Linked DNA regions of Homo sapiens. The protein of the gene in region 7 purifies or fractionates together with the protein of the main gene of each other region. This does not show direct contact. Each region holds a gene or a part of one and is shown on either strand. Other genes may lie near its edges. The genes, in order: CHURC1, SYNGAP1, LRCH2, CLUH, ARPC4-TTLL3, GALT and ARPC3.

Region 1 (3,500 bases), on a different chromosome or scaffold from region 7:
AGGTCACAATAATAACAATAATAAAAAGTATATCTTGTTAAGGCAGCATAAAGCTTTTAAAAATATGTCCGTGAAAAATAATTTGATAAACAAAAAAAATTCAGTTCCTGAATCGTAAGCTTTAGTTATCTGCAAAAGTCATTTACATAGACTATTTGATATCCCAGATAAATGAGGTGTTAATGACATTTTCCTCTTAAAGACCTAACTAGTAATTATGTGCGCAATACAATATTGAAATAGGCCTCAGAATATTTTGTGTAACATATCGACTTCCAAAAGCTGACACCTGCTAACACACTCAGGTTAAAAAATAAAGTCTACTTACGATCATAGGTAACTATTTCTTCTCCATCTTCTTCTTTCAAGGATTTGTTTGTGATCAGCATAAAATCCCGCTTACTGCACACTGCACAGCCTGTAAAGTTCAGTAAGAAAGATCCATTCTCCAGGCAGGTATTACCCTAAAATATCAGAAACAGGAATTTAATTTCTTTACATTTCAAAATCTTTAGTGAAGATGATTAACAGACTTAAAATGTCTAAAGGCAAAACAAAACTAAAAAATGGCCAGCATTTACTTCTAGGTCATATACCAAATAATTTTTGAAATTACTAGCTTTCCTAAAGAAGTGTTACTCATGTTAAAAAAAAAAAAAAAAAAAAAGCAACTAAAGTGCAGTGTTAGATCCTTAAGTCTGTAAGGACTGCCACTATGTTGAAAAGGGAGGATAAACTGAAAATAGATATTTAGAAACAACTTAAGGAAACCTTAATATAAAATATGAAAATAGAAAATTAGAAAAATTTAATAACCAACAATATTAAACGAGGCTTACCAACTAAAATTAAATTCAATCAAAATAGAAACTGAGTCAATGATAAAGATGATCTTACATAGATGTTTAGTTGTTTGTTCAAATAGTTTTGATCCTTGATCATAATACAAAATAAACAAAAGTAAACTCTCAGCTCTATAGATGTCAGTCCTTAAGGATACACATGATTGAGGCAGAGAAGCTTAAGTTCTTCATTTCGTAAGACTGACACAATGGCATTTAAGAGAGAATGGGTTTTACATCTTTACTAAGAAACTATACAAATTTTCAAAAAAAGTTTTTAAAAAAGAAATTCTAAATAACTTATGCTCCTGGCTCAAAGGAAGCCTTTTTTTTTTTTTTGGTAATTGAGATGGGGTCTTGCTATGTTGCCCAGGCTGGTCTCAAACTCCTGGGCTCAAATGATCTTCCCACCTCAGCCTCCCAAGTATTGGGATTACAGTTGTGAGCCACCGTCCCCGACCCAAAGGAAGTCTTTGCTAAAGGCTAATAATTAATAATTAAAAGTCACTTTATAAATAATCTAGTCCAATCCCATTTCTCAGCAACACACTTAAAGAGTATTTTTAAATAATGTGATTAAAAATCACTCAAATCAACGTTTCTCCAGTGCATCTGTGTCTGATATTGTGCAAAGCACAACAGAGGATTCAAAGATGAGCCAAACATGTTGCTACCTTCAAGGAGTTTTAAGAAGCATCAGCGAAATTAAGATCCACCATAAATAATGCCACTAGGAAGTCTTTCTGGATTCCAAGCACCAGAATTAATCTCTCCCTTCTATGTATTGAGGAAGAGATTAATTCTGGTGGGAGAATTAATCTCTCCCTTCTATATATTGAGGAATCTCTCCCTTCTATGTATTGAGGAAGACATTAATTCTAGTGGGAGAAATCAAGACATTACTACATAGTTATTAAATCATAGGTGTACTGCCTTAACTACTAAAAGGGAAAAGGGCCTTAGGATTAAAGTATACATTTCCAGTTATTAAGAACAAATGCTTTGCTTTGATTTTTTTTTTTTTTTTTTTTTTTTGAGACGGAGTCTCGCTCTGTCACCCAGGCTGAAGTGCAGTGGCACACTCTCGGCTCACTGCAAGCTCCACCTCCCAGGTTCATGCCATTCTCCTGCTTCAGCTTCCCAAGTAGCTGGGACTACAGGTGCCCGCCACCACGCCCTGCTAATTTTTCGTATTTTTAGTAGAGATGGGGTTTCACTATGCTAGCCAGGATGGTCTCGATCTCCTGACCTCGTGATCTGCCCGTCTCGGCCTCCCAAAGTGCTGGGATTACAGGAATGAGCCACTGTGCCCAGCCTTTGATTTTTTTTTTAATAAAATCTACTGAGGTACAATTTACATACAATAAAATTCACACACTGTAAGGGTATACATAGGTGAATGACTTTTAACCAATGTATATACCCATGTAACCACTACCCTAGTGAAGGTATAAAACATTTCTATCCACCCCAAAAAGTTCCTTCATGCTTTTCAGTCTATCTCTAACCTCCATCCCACCCCAGACACCCACTGATCTGATTTCCATCTCCAGTCTTGCACGTTCTAGAATTTTATATAAACAGAATCAGTATACTCCCGCATCCAATTTTCCTTGCTCGATATAATGCCTATGTTCATCATCACTGTTGTTCTAGGTACTGGTAGTTTGTTGCTTTTCATTGCCAAATAGTATTCCCTGTAGGATTCAGCTGTTGGTAGATATTTGGGTTGTTTCCATTTGGGGCTATTATGAATAAAGCAGCTATAGAGATTCATGTGCAAGTCTTGGATGGATACATGTCTTCCTTTCCCTTGGGTAAATATGTAGAAGTGGAATTGCTAATATGGTAAAAATATGGTATATTTAACTTTACAAGAAACTGCCAAATGGTTTTCCAATTTACATTCCTGCCAGCAATGTGTGAGTTCCAGTTGCTCTATAGCTACATCAATACTAGGTACTGCTTTTTATTTTTGCCATTCAGTGACGTAAAGTGGTATCTCATTGTAGTTTTAACTTTTGTTTCCTTGATGACTAATGATGTTGAGCATCTTTTCATGGTGCTTATTCATGTATCTTCTTTTATGAAATGTCCATTCAAGTCTTTTGCCCATTTTCAAAAAGTTAGGTTGTTTATTTTGAGTTGTAAGAGTTCTTTATATATCTTAGATACAAGTTTTTTCCCAAATATATTTTCTCCGTCATTGATTTGCCTTTTTTGATGGTTTCTTCTAATGAGCAAACAAGTTTTGATTTTCATAAAGTCCAATTTAACATTTTTTCTTTTATAATTTATACTTTTTTTCTCCTAAGACATCTCTGCCTACCCCAGGGTTGCACAAAGTTTCTTACATTTTTTTCTAGAAGTTTTATAGCTTTTAGTTTGTAGATTTAGGTTTATAATCCATTTTGAAATAATTTTATATATGAGGTAAGGATCAAGGTTTATTTAGTTGCGTATGGATTTCCAGTTGTTTTGGCAAGATTTGTTGAAGAACTGTCTTTCCCCCCACTGAATTACAATGGTGCTTTTGTAGAAAAAAGTCAATGACCATATATATGTGGGTCTGCTTTGACTATTCTGTTCCCTTGATACATATATCTACCTTCCCACTAATATCAAACTCTCTTGATTACTATAGTTTTTATAGTTAGT
Region 2 (3,500 bases), on a different chromosome or scaffold from region 7:
CAAGATGGGAGGCTGCTTGAAGAAGGGGGCCATGGCAGAGGGAACAGACAGATTAGGGAGAGAGAAATGGAGGGGGAGAGAAGGTGAGGGGAGAGACACGTGGGAGAGAGATGGAGGGGTGTGGGAGAGAGACAAGGAGAGGAGGAGAAGAAAAACAGACACCAGGGAGAGACAGAGATGGGAGAGAGATGGAGGGTCACTTGAGGTACAGGGAGCTCGGACCCCCCAACTCTTCTGGATTCCAGGGAAATGGGGATGGAGGTGCCCCAGGCATGATCCCCAGTCCCTGGAATGGCTCAGAGCTCACTCCCCGCACCTCCCAGTTCCACTTCAATGTCCCACTGACACCTTAAACTCGGCTGGTGTAAAGCAGAGCTCACCATCGCCCCCACACCTCCAACTGGCTCCTCCTCCTGACTTTCCTGGTTGTCAATGAGGCCACCGGTCTCCCAACCACCAGCCTCATGGCCTCTTGAGTCATCCGTGACTCCCCACAGACATGCTCCCTCCTTTCCAATAAGCTGACAATTCCTACTGATCCTTTCCCGAGAGGGTCCTTCCAGTAGCTCCTTCCTAACTTCTGTCACTGTTCTGATTCAGGATCTGACTTTCATGCCTCCGAGCCCCCAGCTGGCTCTATTCCAGTCATCCCCCAACATACATCCCTCTACTCTACTACATACACTCTACTTATGGATTAATTTTTTTTTTTTGAGATGGAGTTTCACTCTTGTTGCCCAGGCTAGAGTGCAATCGTGTGATCTCGGCTCACTACAACCTCCACCTCCCAGATTCAAGTGATTCTCCTGCCTTAGCCTCCCGAATAGCTGGGATTACAGGCATGTGCCACCACATCTGGCTAATTTTGTATTTTTAGTAGAGACAGGGTTTCTCCATGTTGGTCAGCCTGGTCTCAAACTCCTGACCTCAGGTGGTCTGCCCGCCTCAGCCTCCCAAAGTGCTGGTATTACAGGTGTGAGCCACCGTGCCCAGCCTATGGATTAATCTTCTAAATCACAATATTTCTGACACCTTTAATGGCATCCCAAGGCCTACCAATGACCTCAGACTCCTTGAGGCCTTCCAGTTTCTAAAGCTAATCTTCCTGCCCAGACATCTCTCCCGCCACTCCCCATTATGAGGCACATGCTCCACTAAACCTGATGTAATTGCTACTAACCTACTTTAATGTCCCCTGAAAACTCCTGGGCCTTTTCACCATCACACATGTGCCTTTCTCACAGCCTTCTTCTGAAATGTCTTTCTTGCCAACTATGTCCATATATCAGAACCTAAACCAGTCTTCAAAGCCTACCCAAGGGGGCACCTCTTCCCCACTTATCTCAAAGCTCTGCCTTCTCTCTGACCTTATGTCACACAGAGGTTGGGGGGACCCTTACTCAGCACTTACACACCATTATGGCTCTGTGGCTTTTTTTTTTTTTCTTCTAATTTGTCCCCATTCTGGTGGAGGCCCTCTGAGGGCAGGGACCAGGCCTCTTTCACCTGTTTGCTCTATAGCGCCTAGAACAATGCTTTGCCCATAAATGGTGCTCAGTCCTCTTTGAGGATGGACAGATAGATGAACAGATGAACACATAATTCCCCCGACCCTGGCCCCCCAGCCCAGCGTTCCCAGTCTCACCAGTGGGAGTTGACCACCTTGCACAGGGCCAACTCACAGCACATTCGCAGGTTGGCCTGGTGCTCTGCCAAACTGGATGCTGTGCACTTGATAGGGTCTACCTCGCAGTTTTCCTCAGATTCATACAGAGCACGGATGAATTCTCCTGGGGGGTGGGGGCACAAGAGGGTGTGGTCACACTTTCCAAGGGCAGGGAAGGGGGTGGCCAGGGTTGGGGAAATTTCAGAATCAGGTGTTGGAGGCTGGAGTCCTAGGACTCTGGGTTAGGAAGTATCAAGCTGTGGAAGGGTGGACTTGGGGTCTGGGGTGGACATCTGGCAGGTTTGGGAAGAAGAGGGCCTGAGTGTGGGCCATACCAATGGCATCCTTGAGGTATTTCTGACCAATCAGTCTCATATACTCTTCTATGGCTTTAGTGGCAAGCGTGTTCTCGCGGAATATGAGGTGCTCCCGTTCCATGAACCGGTCTACCTCAGACATGGCCATGTCTGAAAGGAAGTCCTGAGGCCCAGGAAAATCCAAGTGTCAGCCTCTGCACAACCCAATCTCGTGAATTTGCCCTGTCCTCACTAACCCCCAAGCAAGTGCCCATTCCCAAGTCACCTTTCCCTGAGGGCACAACACTCACCTTGGCCTTGCCTGTACTCTGCAGGATGTGAACTAGTGCACTGGCAACCTCCTCCTTGCCTTTGACATTCAGGGCGGGCTCCAAGACTGCACACAGCATCCGATAATGGTTGGTGACATACTCTGCAAACTCTTTATATAGCTCCATGGGCAAGATGCTCATTGTCTGGTAACGTGCTTTCAGCCGCACAGCCGGGCAACCTCCTTTGCCCTTGCCCCCTGAGCCACCCCCCGAGCCCCCTCCCCCTCCCGAACCCATGCCCCCAGATCCCCCACTGCCTGTTGGCAGGGTTACAGGGTACCACTGCTCTGTGAAGTGGCGCCCAGCCAGGGTGGCCACTGGCACAGTCACCAGGCCGACATAGCCTGCCTTGTCCTTCTTGCGCTTTTTGTCTGAGTCACGGTACAGATGCAGCCGCAGGGCACGGACAGCCGGCAGGTTGTTAAACTCGAAGTGCTCGCCCCAGAAGACGGTGTCCCCAGAGGCAGAGCGGGGCTTGGAGGTGGTGCGTGCATACAGCATGTCATCCAGGCAGAGCTCACAGTAGTACCGCTTCTTGGGGGGCAGCTCCCGGGCCTCTATGATCCACAGCTTTAGCACATTGTCTACCCGGCGGCTGTTGTCCTGGCATGGTGGGGTGGGCATGATGTTAAAGGGGGAAGGGACAGAGAGACACCAAAAGAGGAGAGACAGTAAGAAAGTGGGATACAGACAGCAATCATAAGGTGAGACGGTGTACTGGGTTGAATAGTATCCCACCAAAACTCATGTCTACCCTGAACCTGTGAATGTGATCTTATTTGGAAACAGGATCCCTGCAAATGTAATCAAACTAAGAAGAGGCCAGCCATGGTATCTCATTCCTGTAATCCCAGCACTTTGGGAGGCCGAGGTGGGTGGATTGCCTGAGGTCAGGAGTTCGAGCCAGCCTGGCCAACATAGTGAAACCCCGTCTCTAATAAAAATACAAAAACAAATTAGCTGGGCATAGTGGCACGTGCCTGTAATCCCAGCTACTCAGGAGGCTGAGGCAGGAGAATCACTTGAACCTGGAAGGCGGAGGTTGCAGTGAGCTGAGCTCATGCCATTGCACTCCAAGCCTGGGAAACAAGAGCGATATTCCATCTCAAAAAAAAGAGGCCATACTGAATTAGAGTGGACCCTTAACCCACCTTATAAAAACTGGTGTCTTTATATGGAGAGGGAGATTTGGAGACACAGAGATAC
Region 3 (3,500 bases), on a different chromosome or scaffold from region 7:
ATAGACATCCCCAACCAAGTAGCTCAAAATACTAAGGATTTACGTATTGCAATTATTTTTTTAAGAAGTGAAAAACTCTAGACTATACATACTAGATTCTCTTAGGAACATAATCATTAACAAAAAGCCATTTCTGAGTGAAATCCAAATTCACAAATGTTCTAGAATCAGTTCATCTCCATATGGTTCAAAGAAAAGTTTATGTCACAGTTATCTTATACCTGTCTCTTGTCACCTTGAATCTCTAATATTCTACTGAGACAAGTAATTAATCTAAAAATAAAGTGACAACATTCTCTGTCACAAATTAGAAAAGACTACACAGAATCAAGTGTTCCTGAAAAGGAAAGAACTTACTTTCCTATTTGGAAAAAACTTTTCCTCAAAGAATTTGATATAAAAAATACATTAGAAAATATCTACTGTTGAATTATCCATTACAGTCCATTGACAGGTATTCTGTTAATGGAATGCTATCTATTTACATGAAACAAGAGAAATGTAAAGATTAAACATTACAGTTTGACCTTTAGCAGATTGAGTGCACTAGCTGAAAGTGAGAGTAAACATAAACTTACATTGTTATTAAATTGGCTTATACAGTTTTCTTTAATTACATTAAATGGTTCCCTGGCGTGTAAGGTATTTTTTTTTCTGTAAATGAGAAGCAGACAACCCTTTCTGAAACTTTCCAGATAACTGATTATAAGAGTATTACAATGTTTTAAGAAGCACCCAAATACACTCAAAGTGTAGAGAAAAAAAGAAAACTAAAATATTTCCCTTTCTAGGTCATGATGATCACTAGCCTCTGCAGAATGGGGAGGTGTGTATCATGCAGTTAAGGCATCTCACAGAGTGGGCTGCTAGGCTGGGCTGGGAGAACAAGATGCCTCTTTTGCAAAGTTTCACTGTGTGCCTAGGAACTTAAACAAATGGCACCTCCCAGCAAATCAATTTTGTAAGTCTTCAATTATCTTTATTTGTAGTAAGTGTCCCTAGCATTACTTCTTATGTTCTCAGTGAGGTTCTGGATCTTGTCTACCTTCATGCCAAATAAATGCTTCAGAATTTATATCACAAATAATCTAAATTGAAATATTAAATTTAAACCTTAAGCAAAAGTATTCCACTAACCCCAATTTTAAAACATCCCAATCAACCACTTCTGTTCTTATACCTGTCATGCAACAAATACCTAACCTAACTTTTCAGGAAGCTTTCTCAAACTAAATTAATCCCCTCTAAAATTAAGCCTTATGCCACAGTTCCAGATCTCTTATGTGTACAGTATATTAAAATATATTATTTTGAATACTATTATATATTATAGTGAAATTCTTTTCTAATGGTTATATTACTGTATACATTTGACTATTGTATAAATCCTTTAAGTACAAAAACCATGTCTCTTTTTATTAGCCATAATCATGTTTCCAAAGTAGGAGTTCAATAAATGCTTGCTTAATGAATCTATTCTAAAACCATAAGAGAGGCATGATAGCTATGCAAATACACACAAAACAAAACACACCATACCACAAACAAAAAGTATATAACCTACGAAGTTAAATAAGCATTGAATTTTCAGAATAAATAACCTATTTATTGGCATGGTGTTTAATAACTGCTTTTTTATAAAGAGAGAATGTGTTACACTGGAAATAACATTAGGATAGCACTGGAGTTGAAAAACCTAGGCTCTGACCCACACACTCTGCCAGACTCACCATTTAACTTTGGACAAATCACTTAACCTGTCTCTCAACCACAACGAGCAATTACTATGTACTCTGCCAAGCTCACAGGGTTATTATTAGGATACAATAGGATAATATATATGAAAGTACTTAAAAATGTATAAAGAGCTGTATAAATGGTATTATCTTAATGATGAATGTACCCTTCAATTAAAGATAACATTTTATTTTAAATGAAAGAAATTAAGGGATAAGTATGCTGTAGAACTTATCACTGAATAAATCAGTACAAGGTTCAGTAATTCAGATTCAATCTATAGCAATTAAAATATGAGTCAACTGTCAAAAATGTGCTTCACATTCGATTTTTCAGGAAGACATTTATTAAATGAAGCAAGGCAGATATTTGAATAAGGCCACAAAATCACAATCATGAGCTCATTCCACTAAATGCACTGAGAGGACCTTCACCTCACAAAATCAAATGCTGTGTTTATCTGGCTCCATTTTACAACCTGATACAATGCACCATGCCCTACAGTTGAAAAGGTGAACCAGCACATGTAGGAAATACTAGAGTTGACTCCTGGTTTACAGGAAAACACGTGATTATCCAGGACACGGCAGAATCTGATGTAAGAATTCCTAAATCTGTTTCACAGACCTACTGCTCATGTACATAAACAGGTATAAAGAAGCAGAGGGAGCAGCAGCAAGTACGCTGAAACATATCCACTTATTTGTAGCACTGGTGACAGAGTCAACTATGCAAGGTTTCAGGATTTGTTTGGGTAACAATTAAATTCACTTTCAAGTCAACAAATTATCATAGTATCCAGATGGACCAAAAAGTTCTATGCAATTTCCCTTCATCTTGTCAAATCTATCTACAGACCATCTCGGAGAAGACATTACAGCAAGAGTCAGCTACTTTACTGAAATGGGTTACCAACTTTCTGATCACTGTTTTATGTCCTTATGTGGGTGAAAATTTTAATCAAGGAGTATCTGGAAGGGAGATCTACTCAAAAAGGTCATGAATCTCCAATCACCAATTGGAGATTCAAGTAAATTAGCAAACTCCCCCTTTTAAATGTTAATCTCCTAGAGAGGCTGCCATAATCATTTACCTGAGCTCTATCCCAATAAAGTAAGAGGAGTGAGGTTGAAGAGAGAAAGAGAAAGGAGAAAAGTGTGATGGGGACAAAGGGAGGAGGCAAGTGAAGAACAGACACTAGAAATGCAGAGAGAGGTAAAAAGACACCAAAGATAAACTCTGCAAACAGCTGCCTAAAATACATTTTCCCTCATAGGAAGCCTGTTAGCAGAGAAAAGATTTTGCTGCTACATGTTTAGGGGGCATCATTTTCTTCACGTAAATTTATCAAACAATTTGAAACAATTTTTGAGTATTTAGTTCCTAGTTTTGGTTTTGACTTTCTTGACAAGTGGCTTTAAGGTTAATAACTAAACTTTTATCAATGTTCTTATTCACTCAAAGAACAAATATTTCTTGAGTGCTTAAAAAATAAACAATTTTAGGGTTTCTCAGCCCTGAGTGCATATTAGAATTACCTGGGAAGATTTTTTTTCCTTAAGTTCCTTGGCCCCTGAGATTCTGATTTAATTGGTCTAGGGTGGGATCCAGGCAGGGTTGAAAAAACAAACAAAAAATCTCCCTTGCAATTGTAATGTGCAGCCAGGGTGGAGAACCAGGGGTCTATTTCATCTTAATGTAAAAAAACCTTCCCCCATTTATTTTGAAATGTATTAATTTCTCCTTATTCAATATTGTTTCAC
Region 4 (3,500 bases), on a different chromosome or scaffold from region 7:
TCCAGGATGCCGGGGATGATGGACTGGGCCGTGACCCGGTAGCCGCGGTAATCCACCACCACCGTGCCCAGCGTGTACAGCCCCTCCACGTCCACCGCGTTGTACGTGCGGACGCCATTCAGGTCGTTGGTGGGCGCCACGTAGGCCGCCACGTCCCCCCCGAAGTCCTTGTAGTGGTCTCGGACGTCGAAGCCCAGGCTGAAGAAGATGTTGTTCCAGATGAACATCTGCATCTTGGTCTCCTCGCTGGGGTTGATGGCCATCACGTTGCCGTCAATGACGGCCATGGCGCCCCTGGTGGCTGCCGCGGTGAAGTCGCTGTGCACCTGGCGGGGGTCGAGGAGGGCAGGGTTAGAGGCCGCGCCCACAAGAGCCTGCATCCACCTGGCCAAGCGCACGCACCTAGACCGCGGAGGCAACCGGGCCTGCCTTGGAAACCCAAGGACCCGGAGCCTCAGTTTCCTCATATGTAGAAAAGGGCAAGAAAACCATGTTTTGGCCGGGCGCGGTGGCTCACACCTGTAATCCCAGCACTTTGAGGGGCCGAGGCGGTCAGACCACTTGAGGTCACGAGTTCGAGACCAGCCTGACCAATATGGTGAAACCCCATCTCTAATAAAAATACAAAAAAAATCAGCCAGGCGAGGTGGCGCGCGCCTGTAGTCCCAGCCACCCGACAGGCTGAGGCAGGAGAATTGCTTGAACCCGGGAGGTGGAGGTTACAGTGAGCCGAAATCACACCACTGCACTCCAGCCTGGGGGACAGAGTGAGACTCCATTTCTAAAAAAGCGCAAACAAACCAAAACCCCCATGTTTTGAGAATACACTTGTGCTGAGGGAGACAGCAGGGCTTAGTGATTAACAAGCGTGCGCAGGTTTGGGATCCACCAGTTATGTGCCAGGTGAACTTGAACAGATAAAGGTATTGACCTTTACAAGTTGTCCAATATATTATAGGAAATAGTCTCTATAACGCACTTGGCACCATCTCTGGTGAAGTCGGTACCCGAGAAATGAGTTTTTGTTTCTACAATTATCATCTCTAGGCAGTATAACTATGGGAGGTTGGTTGTTTTCAGACAGGGTATCACGCTGTTGCCAAGGCTGGAATGCAGCGGCACGAGATCCGAGCTCACTGAAGCCTCGACTTCCCCTGGCTCAGGCCATCCTCCCACTCCAGCCTCCCGAGTAGCTGGGACTACAGGCACATGCCACCATGCCTGGCTAATCTTTTGTATTTTTTGCAGAGACGAGGTTTCACCATGTTTCGTAGGCTGGTTTCCAACTCCTGGGCTCAAGTGATCTGCCTGTCTCAGCCTCCCAAAGTGCTAGGATTACAGGCGTGAGCCACTGTGCCTGGCTGAGATTTCTTTTTTTTTTTTTTGAGACGTAGTCTTGTTCTGTCGCCCAGGCTGGAGTGCAGTGATGCAATTTCGGCTCACTGCAACCTCCGCCTATTGGGTTCAAGCAATTCTCCTGTCTCAGACTCCCGAGTAGCTGGGACTACAGGCATGCGCCACCACACCCAGCTAATTTTTGTATTTTTAGTGGAGATGGGGTTTCCCCATATTGGCCAGGCTGGTCTTGAACTCCTGACCTTGTGATCCGCCCGCCTCGGCCTCCCAAAGTGCTGGGATTACAGGCATGAGCTACTGAAGCCGGCCTGAGATTTTTTTTTTCTTAAGCAACTGCTTTTCCTCATTTCTCTTAGTAACCCAGCACTAATAACTTTTAAACCCCAGCAAACTAAAAGTGTTATGCAAATGAGCACCCGCCCTAGAAGGGCCATGGCCGGCCAGTGCTCGCCCAGGCAAAAGCCCCGCAGCAGTCACAGAGGGCGGGAAGCTGCACGGCCCTGGACACTCAGTCCCTATGGGAAGTAGGGCCCGCTCCTTCCAGGGACTCAAAGCCTCAGAGAGGCCAGAGAAAGGTACTGGGATGGTCTGCTGGGAGGCGGAAGGCTAGCAGACCCTGCGGGAGACGCTGACTGGCCTTCGGGGAACCTGACAGGGTTAGGGCTGCCCCTGCCTCCCTTGCTTTCCTCCTCTCCATGAGAAAACCCGTCAGCAGGTGGACAGCGGGCCTCAGACTGCCGGTCAGCAGAGGCTGCAGGCACCTTGAATATGGCCCTTTCTCGGAGCAGCCGCTCAGGCAGGTTCTTGCGAGGCAGCTCCCTCGTCGTCTGCAGCTCCTCATTCCAGTCTCGGGTCTGCAGAGAGATCAGGGAGGGAAAAACGAGCTCAGCCTGTGCCCTGTGACCTGCTCCCGGAAGTCGCTCCTTCTACCTTCCTGAGAAGAGCCCCAGACTCCCAAATGAAGTCAAGCATGGGGCCTCCAGGGAAGTGCACGGAACCAGCCCAGCACCCAGGAGGGCAGGGGTGCCCAGCGAGGGCAGGGCCAGGTTGCAGGCACCTGTCCAGGAATGTGCTCCTCATAGCCCAGCCTCGAGGTGTAGGCGTCCTCTGCACGCACGCAATCCATGGCATGCTCCGCCTGGGGGGCTGTCCAGCTGTACACCTGGAATGGGGTGGCGATCCTCTCGAACGGGTGGCGCTGGACCCTGTGGCAGGCAGGGGAGGGGGAGATGGGGCAGCCCACCAAGCTCAGAGCCCTTCCACGGGCCCCTTTTCTGAGGCCCCCGCCTGCTCCGGCATCTCCCACCCTGAGACACTGCCCTGGAGCCAGATGGAAGTGCACGGGCGCCTCTCCTGCGGCTGCTGTCTCGGCACTGGCCGACAGCTCCCTAGAGCGGGGACTCCAACACTGGGGGCCCAGGGCGGTTTCTTCAGACAGAAGCACTGGAGTGCAGGTGGGCCGGCTCACCCCATGCCCCCGTGTGCCATGAGACAAGGCGGGAGGGGACAAAGGCACTACCTTTTCTTCTGCAGCACAGCGAAGTTCTTCTTGAAGGTCGGGCTGATCTGGTTGAGCAGCTCCACTAGGGAATGGCTTAGGAAGCGGGGGCTGGCGGGCTTGGGGTTGAAGTGATAAGCTGTGGACCTGCAGGGAGAGGGCGGGCACTGAGCGGGGGCCCAGGTGTCTGCCCAGACCCAGGACGGCTGGCACGGCAGGGGGGTGTGGTGGGCTGGCAGGGACTCACTGATTCAGGTAAAAGCCCCGTGTGGACGCGGTGATGCTGACTTGCCGGTCCTCGGCTGTGATCACAAACAGGTACATGAGGTCCCCGTGCATCTTCCGGTTCCCCGGGGGCGGGTTCCATCCGCTCATGGTGAGTACTTTCAGGCACTGCAAGGGCTTCGGGAGCGGCCGAGTCTGAGGGGCCAGGCCTCTGGTGTGGGGCCTCCACCCCGCCAGGGACCCTCTTCCTCCCTCCCCCAGGATCCTACCTTCCAGTCACGGTTTTGGGGCTGCAGGGGACACAGTGGCCGCTCCCGGCTCCCTGGCAGGATGTACTCGGGTGGTGTGCAGTCGATGGGGTCCATCTCCAAGCCCTTCTTCCGCTTCCCGCTGTCTGAGGGACCCGAGGCTGGTGGTCAGC
Region 5 (3,154 bases), on a different chromosome or scaffold from region 7:
AGCTAATTTGGCTGTGTATTTTTAAACAATACTTTGTGAGTAGTGGCTTTTACTTGCTACTGGTGGCTCTTTGGTGGGGTGGCTGATCCAGGTGGTTGGGAGGGGCCTGGAGAGCAGGAATAAATCGCCTTGGAACACTCGGGTGTTTTGGGGGAATGGTCTTACCCAGGGCCCGGGGGTTCTTCGGACTCAGTGGCAATCTGTTCAAGTGGTGGGGTTGCCTGTCCCCACTAGAAAAGGTCATGGTGAAAATGCAGCCCATCCTGGTGCTGGGGGCATCCCACTCCCAGAGATTGGGGCAGACCAGGGCTGTGGCCCTTTTCGCCTTGCCTTTCTTCCCCTTTCCGGGGGCTGAAGTGGTGGCAGTGGAGACTGGCTTCTCACTGTGCCCCAGGCTCCTGGCCCCAGTGCCTTTCCTAGAAGCTGACCTGTGGGTAGGGGTCCCCGAGTCCTTGCCTTCCCCAGAGCCTCGCTGGGTCAGCAGAGGGACTGCTGGGCGGACCCCCATCCGCCGATGACACATCGCCATGGGCTTCTTGATGGTGAAGCCCTCTACCAGGAGCCGGATGCCCACATATTGAGGCACCTCCACAGCAGGCTGTGGGCAAGAAGAGGAGACAAGGCCCACTCAGTCAGTGGTACTGGAATCCTTGGCCCAGCGGGACCCAGAGTAGAGATGGGTGGAATTACTTTCTGAGGCACCTGGTCAAAGAGGCGTTTCTGAGCTGAGAAATGGAAAGCCCACCTCTGAGTCAGTACCTAGAGTCACAGAGCTCCAGGAATTGCTAGCCCAGAGGAAGGGGGAATCCTAGCCATGTCCCACCAGCACCCCTCAGCCACATTTCCCTCCTAAGCTGCCCCCAGCCCCTGCTGGAATGCGTGTGGCTCCACTGCACAGGCCACTGCTGGTGGACAGCTTCCTGAGCTGAGCCAATCAGATTCTCTGCACAGAGAATTTGAGTTACGCCACCCAGACAAGTAAGAGGTTTGGAGCCTGCCTAGAGCCTCGTGTGAATCCAGGTTATGGGGTAGCAGAAACTAAGAACCTTAAAGAAGACAGTCTGTGGAGAGAATGAAGTAACGAATATGCAGAGGAAGGCAGAGAGAAGGGTCCAGGAGAGGGACTCCCTTACAACTCTCAGTTCCTATCAGGCCAAGCTGTATGTCCTGCCCTCAGCTGGGCTCCAGGAGAGCTCCCTGTGCCTTGCTAGCAACCTGGAGCCAGTTGGAGGTATCTTCTGTGCCACTGAAGGATCCTGATCAGAATCTATCTAAACATCAGAATTACTTGGAGCTTGTTAAAAATACAGCTATTGGCCGGGCATGGTGGTCACACCTGTAATCCCAGAGCTTTGGGAGGCTAAGGTTGGCAGATCACTTGAGGTCAAGAGTTCGAGATCAGCCTGGCCAACATAACCAAACCCTGTCTCTACTAAAAATACAAAAAAATTAGCAGGTCATGGTGGCAGGCACCTGTAATCCCAGCTACTCGGGAGGTCGAGGCAGGAGAATTGCTTGAACCCAGGAGACAGAAGTTGCAGTGAGCCGAGATCGCACCATTGTACTCCAGCCTGGGTGAAAAGAGCGAAACTCCGTCTCAAAAAAAAAAAAAAAAAAAAAATGCAGCTATTGCCGGGCGCGGTGGCTCTCTGGGAGGCCAAGACAGGCGGATCAGCTGAGGTCAGGAATTGGAGACCAGCCTGGCCAACATGGCGAAACCCCATCTCTACTAAAAACACAAAAATTAGCCGGCCATGGTGGGCGCCTGTAATCCCAGCTACTCGGGATCTGAGGAGAATCACTTGAATCCGGGAGGCGGAGGTTGCAGTGAGCCGAGCTAGCACCACTGCACTCCAGCCTGGGTGGCAGAGTGAGACTCTGTCTAAAAAAAAAAAAAAAAAAAAATCAAATAAAAATGTAGCTATCAGCACTCCCAAGTAGCCCCAGATGATGAGGGAAAGTTCATCTTTACAGAAGAATCTCAGCTAATAAATGCAGAAGGAACAACAGAATTAGACATTTGCCATTTTGCAACTCTAATAAAATAGGCAATAATCAAAACTGGTATCAAAACAATTAGATGAAAGGATGACAGGAAAATGTGTAATCTGGACAGAGCCAACACAGCACCTTACAGAAAAATTAATTGCAAAGGGGAGATGTAGCTTATAATGGAGAGAATCTGGTAGCCACCACTGTAACCCACAGTCAAACTCAGCAGCACTAACTGTGAGACACTCTCACAGGATGTGCCTTGTGATGCCACATGAGGTACGCGGCATCACCTCTGAAGTGCTCTTGGGAAAAATGTTTAACCTCATCAAACTATTTGACCTAACTTCTAGTTCCTGAGACAATCAGCTAACAGAAGACCAAGGTAAATCACACCATAAGGAAACAATCAGATAAATCCAGAATGTGGGACAGTTCTACAAAACAACCCGCCTGGCCCCTCAAAAGATCAAAACTATGGGGTCAAAAGGCACTGGGGCTGGCCTAGATGAAAAGAGACAAAAAAAAACAGTGCAAGGTATAAGCCTTTACTATGTGCTGGCCTAAAAACAAAAACAAGAACAAATCAGCAATAAAAGACATTTAGAGGGCTTGGCGCGGTGGCTCATGCCAGTAATCCTAGCATTTTGGGAGGCCGAGGCGGGCAAATCACGAGGTCAGGAGATCGAGACCATCCTGGCTAACATGGTGAAACCCCATCTCTACTAAAATACAAAAAATTAGCCGGGCATGGTGGCAGGCACCTGTAGTCCCAGCTACTCAGGGGGCGGAGGCAGGAAAAGCGCTTGAACCCGGGAGGCGCAGCTTGCAGTGAGCCGAGATGGTGCCACTGCACTCCAGCCTAGGCAACAGAGCAAGACCCCGTCTCAAAAAAAAAAGATATTTGGGGGGCATTTGAAAAATGCAGATATACATAGTCTCCTCCCCAAGCTAGACATTTTGGGTCAATCTCTGGGGGTGGAGCCTCCTCACATCCATACCTTTAGAAGCTTTCAGATGCTTCTGGCCTGGGCACTGGCATTGGGAGCACTGCACTACAATGGCACCTTTTCCCTCAGCTTGCTCATATTTTCCTGCCCATGTATTTCCCCGTTTACATTTTTTGAAACCAAAACGCCAATATATTAATTTAAGAAATGAT
Region 6 (4,269 bases), on a different chromosome or scaffold from region 7:
GTAGTAATGAGCGTGCAGCTGCCAATGGTTCCAGTTGGCCCCAGCCTCTGATCCTGTGGGAGCCCCTGACAGAAAGAAGAGAGACAGTGGGGAGAGAGAGCCCTTTTACAGTTATCCAGGTTAGCACCTACTCCCAAACCCAACCAGGTATCTGAAAACTACATCTCCCAGGATCCCCTGCTTGAGAAGAGCTGGCAGGAGATTAGAAAGCACATTGGAGATGTAGTTTCACCAAGTTTGCTGCTCCACCCTCAGTCCCAGCATCTCTACTCTGGCCACTTCCCCCAGCAACTGTTTCAAGGCTTGCTCCTTTGAGGTTGCAGTTCACTAGGCTGAGCCCCAGGAGCCCAGAAATGGTGTTGGGGCTAAATATAGGTACTTGAAAAGCCTCACCATGCCAGCCCATGGAGTAGGGAAAGGACGTCTCAAAGAGGTTGTCATACTTGGTCAAGAGCTTCTTCATGATGGAGGCTAGATCTGGAATCAGAGCCTGACTCTCAGCCTGGGGTCCAGATGCTGACCCTACTGGGAGCAACCTCCATCCAGTGCCTAGCCCCAGGATCCTACTTGGGAGACTGACCATCACGCTCAGCAGGGGTCAGCTCAGGTAGCCGCCGCACATGCCGACGGGGCAGCAGCAGTGTCTGGTAGGGCCATGTTGCCCAGAAGGGGACCAGTACTAACCAGTGCTCACTGGTTAGGACCAGACGTTCCTAGGAAGACAGAATGGATAGGAAGTCATCAAGGTGACATAGGAGCCGGAGTGTGGTCAGCAAATAGGCAAGGGAAGCAGAAGAAAAGAATGTGCCCAGGATCTGATGTCTTCTCACCACCTCTACCACTAACCACCCGAGTCTAAGTCACCATCATCTTTCCTTTAGATTACTGGATTATTGCTAAGGCCTCCTAGCAAGTCTCTCTCTACTAGTTCACCTCTAGCTTTCTCCTTTACACACCTCTCTCATGGGATAAGAAAGTTAGGGACTCCTTGGGGACACAGGGCTTGGCTCTCTCCCACCTTCCTGAGTAGCTCCTGGCGGCTGTACTCCATTAGCAGGGGCTCTCCATGCTGACTCTTATAGGCCTGCTGAGATCGCTCCTCACGCTGGGCAATATCTGGCAGGAAACTGCTGGCCCATACCTGTCAAGGGGCAAAAGCAGAGAAGAACAGGCAGGTCCTTTACCTCCAAGCCTCCACATCATTGGCATATTTCCTCTGTCCCATCCATTAATCCTGTTCCCATGTCCACAGTGCTGGCTCAGACTCAGCCAAGAAACCCACTGGAGCCCCTGACACCCTTACCTGGCAGTGGGGGTGGGGGTTAGAACAGCCCATCATGGCACCTTTGTTTTCAAAGATCTATCAGATAGGGATACGGAGCTCTGTTAGCCAAAAGACACCAAGTCAACTCCCTCCTGACCACACCCTGTGGAAACAGAAATGTTACTCCCCAGAACCAAAGCTTCATCACCCCCTCCCTGCCCATCCAGGGGAAGGGGCGACCTCACAAACCTGCACCCAAGGGTACTGGGCACCCAGCTCCTCTGTGACTGAGGCCCATGCATCAACAACAGCCCGGATCTCAGGGACCGACATGAGTGGCAGCGTTACATCCGACCAGGGGTGGAAGCACATGACCTTACTGGGTGGTGACGGGAGAAAAGATAACCGAGAGGTAGGGCTTGGCTGTGCTACGGGCAGGGCCGAACCCCAATGCTGAGTCTCCAACTCTGGTTTGAAAGTTGTAAGAGGGGAAATCCATAGTTACCAGACTCCTCGAGCAGACTTTGCTTGGAAAAGGGGATGATCACTGGGTCCTGAGGTAAAGGAGTATCACTCTCTGCAGCAGAAGTCCCTCAAGAGGTCTAGCCACCCTCCTCCCCAGCAGCAGTTGGAGCCAGGTTACCTGGACTGGGGGCATCAGGCTGCAGAGCTGGGAAGTCGTTGTCAAACAGGAAGGTGCTATCGTACTGGGGATTCACCTACCGACAAGGATAGGCTAGAAGCACTCACTGCCCCATACCACCAGTTACCTGGTGGGCTTCAAAGACTGGACAGGCTACAAGGGAGTAGGGAAGGCCCACCCTAGGGGACCAAAAAGCTTGGTGGGATATGACCCAGAAGGAGGTTCACTATCCCTGTGGGTGGAGGACAGTTCTAAGAGGGAACTACTCCCCGTGGCCCAGCCTGCAGATGCAGGGCTCTACAGGCTTACCTCTCCGTTGGCTCGGATGGCCCCAGGACACAGAGGGTTGAGAGGGTCATGGCGGGGCACTGTCTTCAGAAGCTGGGGCTCCACTTGACCCTGCCAGGGCCGCTTCATGCGGTGAGCTGACACCAGCACCCACTCATCCTGCAGCGGGTTGTAGCGGATATGCTGATGGTCTGGGGGCAGACAGTCAAGATCAGTCCTCAGAGCTCTCTAGCTCCCTCTCTCCTGGGTCTCACCCACCAGCAGGCCCAAGCTCGGGAGCGCCCTCTCGGCCCTGTCCCGCTCAGGAGCTAGAGGCCCAGGATTGGACTTTCCCAGCGCCAATTGGCCTGCTGCTCGTACAGGCCTGCAGACTGTACGCCTTGTCGGTCTGGCTCGGGATGAGCGTTCCAACCTTCGGAGGGGACGAAAGCTTCCTAAGGAAGGGGAGGGCTCGGCTCCGCGCCCCAGCGAGTCCCTGCCGCGGTGCAGTTACCGTTTGCCCGGAAGGTTGCTGCTGCGGCGTCCGCCTCTGACGCCTGCTGGCGTTGCTGAGGATCGGTTCCACTGCGCGACATGAGGCCACCGGGGGATCCGCTGGAAAATCTGCAGGGCCGTGCCTCACCTTTCACTTTCTCCGTCCACACCACCCCTCCCCGCGCCGCCCCCGATGATTGGCCAGCCGCCAGCACGTGACTGACTGACTGGGCTGCCCTGCCACCTGGGGGCGGGGCTCAGAACAGCTGTGAACCCTGGGGGCCGACATTGATGATCCTACTTCACCCAGAGCTAGAGCCACTACACTGGAAGAACCTCTGTGAAAGCTGCCTACTGCAGAATCCTTGGGCTCCAGGATGCCTACAGGACTTGCTTGCTGCAATCATTCATTTGATCTTTCATTCAGCAAATATTTACCAAGCATCTAGCATGTGCTAGGCACCTAGGCTGTGTAAAGCATTGGGATGCACATGTCAGGCATGGCCTCTGCCCTGCCTGAGCTTACATTCTAGGGCGAGTAAGGATATGACCCTGGATCAACAGCGCCTCAGTCACCTGCTCAGTGGCTGTAGCGCAGGAGAGGCAAACTTGGTGGGGTCTGTGTGGAGTACTTCACCATAACCATATCCTATCCCCAAAAGCAAAAACAGATTTGGGAAAAAGGGCTAAGTAACCATATTCTCTTTTTCTCTCACTCTTGCTCTCCTTCCTCTCTCTCTCTCTCTCTTTTTCATACACACACCAAGACAGCACAAGAAGTGGGAGGGGTAAAAGGGCTATAAAAAAAAATCTAAAAATGGCCGGGCTCGGTGGCTCACGCCTGTAATCCCAACACTTTGGGAGACCAAGGCAGGCGGATCACAAGGTCAAGAAATTGAGACCATCCTGGCCAACATGGTGAAACCCCGTCTCTAGTAAAAAAAAAAAAAAAAAAAATTAGCTGGTCTTGGTGGCGTGCACCTGTAGTCCCACCTACTCGGGAGGCTGAGGCAGGAGAATCACTTGAACCCAGGAGGCAGAGGTTGCAGTGAGCCGAGATTGTGCCCATGCACTCTAGCCTGGCGACAGAGCAGACTCCGTCACAAAAAAAAAAAAAAAAGTACAAGAAAGTCTAAAAATGTGGAGAGTACAGGACTATCAGAAGCTCCAGCCACCATCTAGGTGGGGCCTAGTGTTTCCTTTACACATCCCCTTCCCTTTTCTAAATTTTCCTTGGATGGGACCAATTGGCTAACACTAGGATAAAATTCAAATTAATTCCTCCCCTGGTACTTTTGTTTGTTTGTTTGTTTGAGAGAGAGTCTCACTCTGCCACCCAGGCTGGAGTGCAGTGGCGTGATCTTGGCTCACTGCAACCTCCACCTCCCAGGTTCAAGCGATTCTCCTGCCTCAGCCTCCAAGTAGCTGGAATTAGAGCTGTGTGCCACCACACTGGGCTAATTTATGTATTTTTAGTAGAGACGGGGTTTCACATGTTGGCCAGGCTGGTCTTGAACTCCTGACTTCAAGTGATCCTCCTGCCTCAGCCTCCCAAACAGCTGGCCCCCAGTACTTTTAAAGAGCCATCTAAATATTGTCT
Region 7 (3,008 bases):
AGTAGAGACCAGGTTTCTCCGTGTTAGTCAGGCTAGTCTCAAACTCCCGACCTCAGGTGATCTGCCCGCCTGGGCCTCCCAAAGTGCTGGGATTACAGGCGTGATCCACTGCGCCTGGCCATATTAGTATATTTTATTTCATACATATACACAGAGAGAAAAAAAAGAAAAAGAGAAAAGAAAGCACTGATATATGCTCTAACATGGATGAATTAGAAAACATTAAGTCAAAGAAGCTAGACATAAAAGGCCACATGTTGTATAAAAAATTCAATTTACATGAATTATCCAGAATAAGCAAATCCATAGAGACAGAAAGTAGATTAATACTGGGAGGAGGGGTGGGAGGGACAGGGGGCTTGGGGAGGAATGTGGGGTGGGGTGGCTGCTAAAGAGTGCAGGTTCACTACACCGGGGTGATGAAAATGCTCTGGATTTACTGGGGATGGTTGTAAAACTTCATGTATATACTAAAAAAAGTGAATTGTACACTTTAAAAGGGCATTATGGAATGTGAATTTTATCTCAAAACAAATTGTAAGTGAATGTCAAAGACTGGCAATAAAGTTTTTCTGACATGGAATGTTAGAAATTTCTTTATTATTACTTATTCTTATTAAGCGCCAGCTTTAATGCTGCAGAAAATTTCAAATCACCCTTGATAACCCACTTTCTTTTCTCCCACCCAAATTCTTGATCAAGAGTTTTTCAAGTAAAGACATGCTCTTCTCTCTTCTGTATAAAACTTTACGAAATAAAGGCAAAAGATTGTGTACATCTTGCTGGAAAATGCTGCCCAGGGCTCTGGAGACGGTGGCTGCCCGGGCTCCCTTCACTGTCCAGGTCCTGAAAGACTCTTGTTCATGAACTGTCTCTTCACAAAGCAAGTCCACCACTAACAAGAGAGAACAACACAGAATGAACAGCGGGGTCAAATTACAATAGAATTTGCATTTATTTAATAATAAAATTTCACATTAGTCTGGAATCTCTTATAAACTTTTTTTTTTTTTTTTTGAGACGGAGTCTCGCTCTGTCGCCCAGGCTGGAGTGCTGGAGTGCAGTGGTGTGATCTTGGCTCACTGCAAGCTCCGCCTCCTGGGTTCATGCCATTCTCCTGCCTTAGCCTCCCCAGTAGCTGGGACTACAGGCGCCTGCCACCACGCCTGGCTAATTTTTTGTATTTTTTAGTAGAGACGGGGTTTCACCATGTTAGCCAGGATGGTCTCAATCTCCTGACCTCATGATCCGCCTGCTTTGGCCTCCCAAAGTGCTGGGATTAGAGGCGTGAGCCACCGCGCCTGGCCATAAACCCTTTTTAGACAAAGTCTCACTCTGTCATTCAGGCTGGAGTGTAATGGCATGATCTTGGCTCACTGCAACCTCCACTTCCTGGGTTCAAGCGACTCTCTTGTCTCAGCCTCCTGAGTAGCTGAGATGACAGGTGCACACCATCATGCCTGGCTAATTTTTTGTATTTTCAGTAGAGATGGGGGTTTCACCATGTTGGCCAGGCTGGTCTCGAACTCCTGACCGCAAGTGATCCACTCGCCTCGGCCTCCCAAAGTGGTGGGATTACAGGCGTGAGCCACTGCGCCCGGCCTGCAATTCATTATTTAGTGTGATTCAGTGAACTCATATTACATACTAGACATATACTGGAAGTTAAGCAACATTGCAATGCAGAAATTAAAAATATTCTTGCAATGGAAGACCTTAGTGTGTTCAATGGTGGCTATGGGATAAAAGGTGATTTACCAATTAAGCAGGCAAGAAGAGGGTCTTACCTTGCTGGGTTTATCATTCTGAGGGTCGAAAACTTTCTCACAAAGTCTCAGTCCAGTCTCTTGCCTTAGCTGTTGTAAATAGGCTCTCATCACTTCTAAAACAGAACAATTTAAAAAAAACTGTATTTGCAAATACATCCCAAATGTACTGGTTGCAGCTCTGGATGCTCACTGTGGTAATACATTTTTATACATTTGAACAGGATACAAAATAGAAATGACAGTCCAGATAGTTTTATAACTATATTTGTTTTTGTTCAAAAGATTTTCTGCATGTCATCCTTGTTGCCAAGAATCGTTTGTGAGAGTGACTAATAAGATAATGTACTTCCTATGATTTCACTCTCAATCTGTACATGAATCAAGGCAAGAAAAAGAGGGGTGGTAGGAAGTCAAATGGAGAAAATCTTCTTGTGTCACAGAGTGAGGATAGAGACCTGTTCTTACCATCTTCCTGTTTGTTTGCAGGTTTGGCATAAATTGCGTTAAGTGGAAAACCAGGCTCTCCAGGAATGGGAAAATTAGTGATTCCCAGCGTATACATTTCTTTCTCACCTTGGCTTTTGGAATTGCACTGGAAAAAAAAATATATATATATATATACACACACACACACACACACACACACACACACACACACACACATATTTTACAGGGAAAAGAAGAATTCTATCCTTGGACCCCAGGTTAAGAACCCTTGAGTCAAGGGCTTAAAAGGAATTCCTCTGTCAAGATTTCTGTCTTGAGAAAATATATTCAAAGCCTTAAAACACCACTACTTTTATCTTTGTGTCAGTCAATTATACTACAAGTTCAGGTAACTAAATTCAAATTTTTCTCTTAAGTCCATGCTGTAAGTCAGAGGAAATATTTTCTACTTGTCTTTAAAGTCTCAACAAATCCCAGATGACTGGGAGGGTAAATGCCTCTCAGCAATTTGTTTTCCTGATATACAATCATCCAAGTTTAATTACCTTTTGCAGTTTCTTCAGACATTCAGAAATGTAGAGAGTTATATATATCAAGGTCCTATCAGCTTCATTCTACAGGGAGAAAAAGAAGACTTAAAAACAGTTATCAAAACATAACAATGATGTGCAATGTATGCATTCCATCTTTGTCTTCTGATTATCTGCTGAATGCAGTGGTAGGACAGCCACTATCACATCAAAACTCCCATTCTCCAAATGCACAGTCTCCTCAGTCTCCTTTTCCGTCTGC

What was found.
Region 1: the proteins of ARPC3 (region 7) and CHURC1 purify together in Homo sapiens (affinity purification with mass spectrometry; 2 studies listed by BioGRID and IntAct, with this or other methods). This does not show direct contact.
Region 2: the proteins of ARPC3 (region 7) and SYNGAP1 purify together in Homo sapiens (co-immunoprecipitation; one large-scale study listed by IntAct). This does not show direct contact.
Region 3: the proteins of ARPC3 (region 7) and LRCH2 purify together in Homo sapiens (affinity purification with mass spectrometry; 3 studies listed by BioGRID and IntAct, with this or other methods). This does not show direct contact.
Region 4: the proteins of ARPC3 (region 7) and CLUH purify together in Homo sapiens (affinity purification with mass spectrometry; 3 studies listed by BioGRID and IntAct, with this or other methods). This does not show direct contact.
Region 5: the proteins of ARPC3 (region 7) and ARPC4-TTLL3 purify together in Homo sapiens (affinity purification with mass spectrometry; 2 studies listed by BioGRID, with this or other methods). This does not show direct contact.
Region 6: the proteins of ARPC3 (region 7) and GALT purify together in Homo sapiens (affinity purification with mass spectrometry; 3 studies listed by BioGRID and IntAct, with this or other methods). This does not show direct contact.

The regions. Positions count from the first base shown.
Region 1 is NC_000014.9:64,920,955-64,924,454, reverse strand, and holds part of CHURC1 (protein Churchill), read right to left. Parts: intron 465-3,500; coding exon 329-464; intron 1-328. Other genes in the region: CHURC1-FNTB protein, read right to left, coding at 329-464. UniProt on the Homo sapiens protein: Transcriptional activator that mediates FGF signaling during neural development. Plays a role in the regulation of cell movement.
Region 2 is NC_000006.12:33,437,065-33,440,564, reverse strand, and holds part of SYNGAP1 (ras/Rap GTPase-activating protein SynGAP), read right to left. Parts: intron 3,203-3,500; exon of another isoform or gene 3,084-3,202; intron 2,898-3,083; coding exon 2,274-2,897; intron 2,235-2,273; exon of another isoform or gene 2,147-2,234; coding exon 2,002-2,146; intron 1,791-2,001; coding exon 1,646-1,790; intron 1-1,645. UniProt on the Homo sapiens protein: Major constituent of the PSD essential for postsynaptic signaling. Inhibitory regulator of the Ras-cAMP pathway.
Region 3 is NC_000023.11:115,227,597-115,231,096, forward strand, and holds part of LRCH2 (leucine-rich repeat and calponin homology domain-containing protein 2), read right to left. Parts: intron 1-3,500. UniProt on the Homo sapiens protein: May play a role in the organization of the cytoskeleton.
Region 4 is NC_000017.11:2,698,265-2,701,764, forward strand, and holds part of CLUH (clustered mitochondria protein homolog), read right to left. Parts: intron 3,474-3,500; coding exon 3,349-3,473; intron 3,257-3,348; coding exon 3,102-3,256; intron 3,002-3,101; coding exon 2,876-3,001; intron 2,562-2,875; coding exon 2,414-2,561; intron 2,211-2,413; coding exon 2,118-2,210; intron 327-2,117; coding exon 1-326. UniProt on the Homo sapiens protein: mRNA-binding protein involved in proper cytoplasmic distribution of mitochondria.
Region 5 is NC_000003.12:9,830,548-9,833,701, reverse strand, and holds part of ARPC4-TTLL3 (ARPC4-TTLL3 fusion protein), read right to left. Parts: intron 599-3,154; coding exon of another isoform or gene 166-598; intron 1-165. Other genes in the region: tubulin monoglycylase TTLL3, read right to left, coding at 457-598.
Region 6 is NC_000009.12:34,645,206-34,649,474, reverse strand, and holds the start of GALT (galactose-1-phosphate uridylyltransferase), read right to left. Parts: upstream 2,801-4,269; 5' UTR 2,771-2,800; coding exon 2,689-2,770; intron 2,387-2,688; coding exon 2,217-2,386; intron 1,984-2,216; coding exon 1,908-1,983; intron 1,819-1,907; coding exon 1,770-1,818; intron 1,644-1,769; coding exon 1,514-1,643; intron 1,361-1,513; coding exon 1,304-1,360; intron 1,142-1,303; coding exon 1,019-1,141; intron 714-1,018; coding exon 581-713; intron 478-580; coding exon 394-477; intron 66-393; coding exon 1-65. UniProt on the Homo sapiens protein: Plays an important role in galactose metabolism.
Region 7 is NC_000012.12:110,434,323-110,437,330, forward strand, and holds the end of ARPC3 (actin-related protein 2/3 complex subunit 3), read right to left. Parts: intron 2,831-3,008; coding exon 2,762-2,830; intron 2,362-2,761; coding exon 2,235-2,361; intron 1,883-2,234; coding exon 1,788-1,882; intron 896-1,787; coding exon 833-895; 3' UTR 501-832; downstream 1-500. UniProt on the Homo sapiens protein: Component of the Arp2/3 complex, a multiprotein complex that mediates actin polymerization upon stimulation by nucleation-promoting factor (NPF).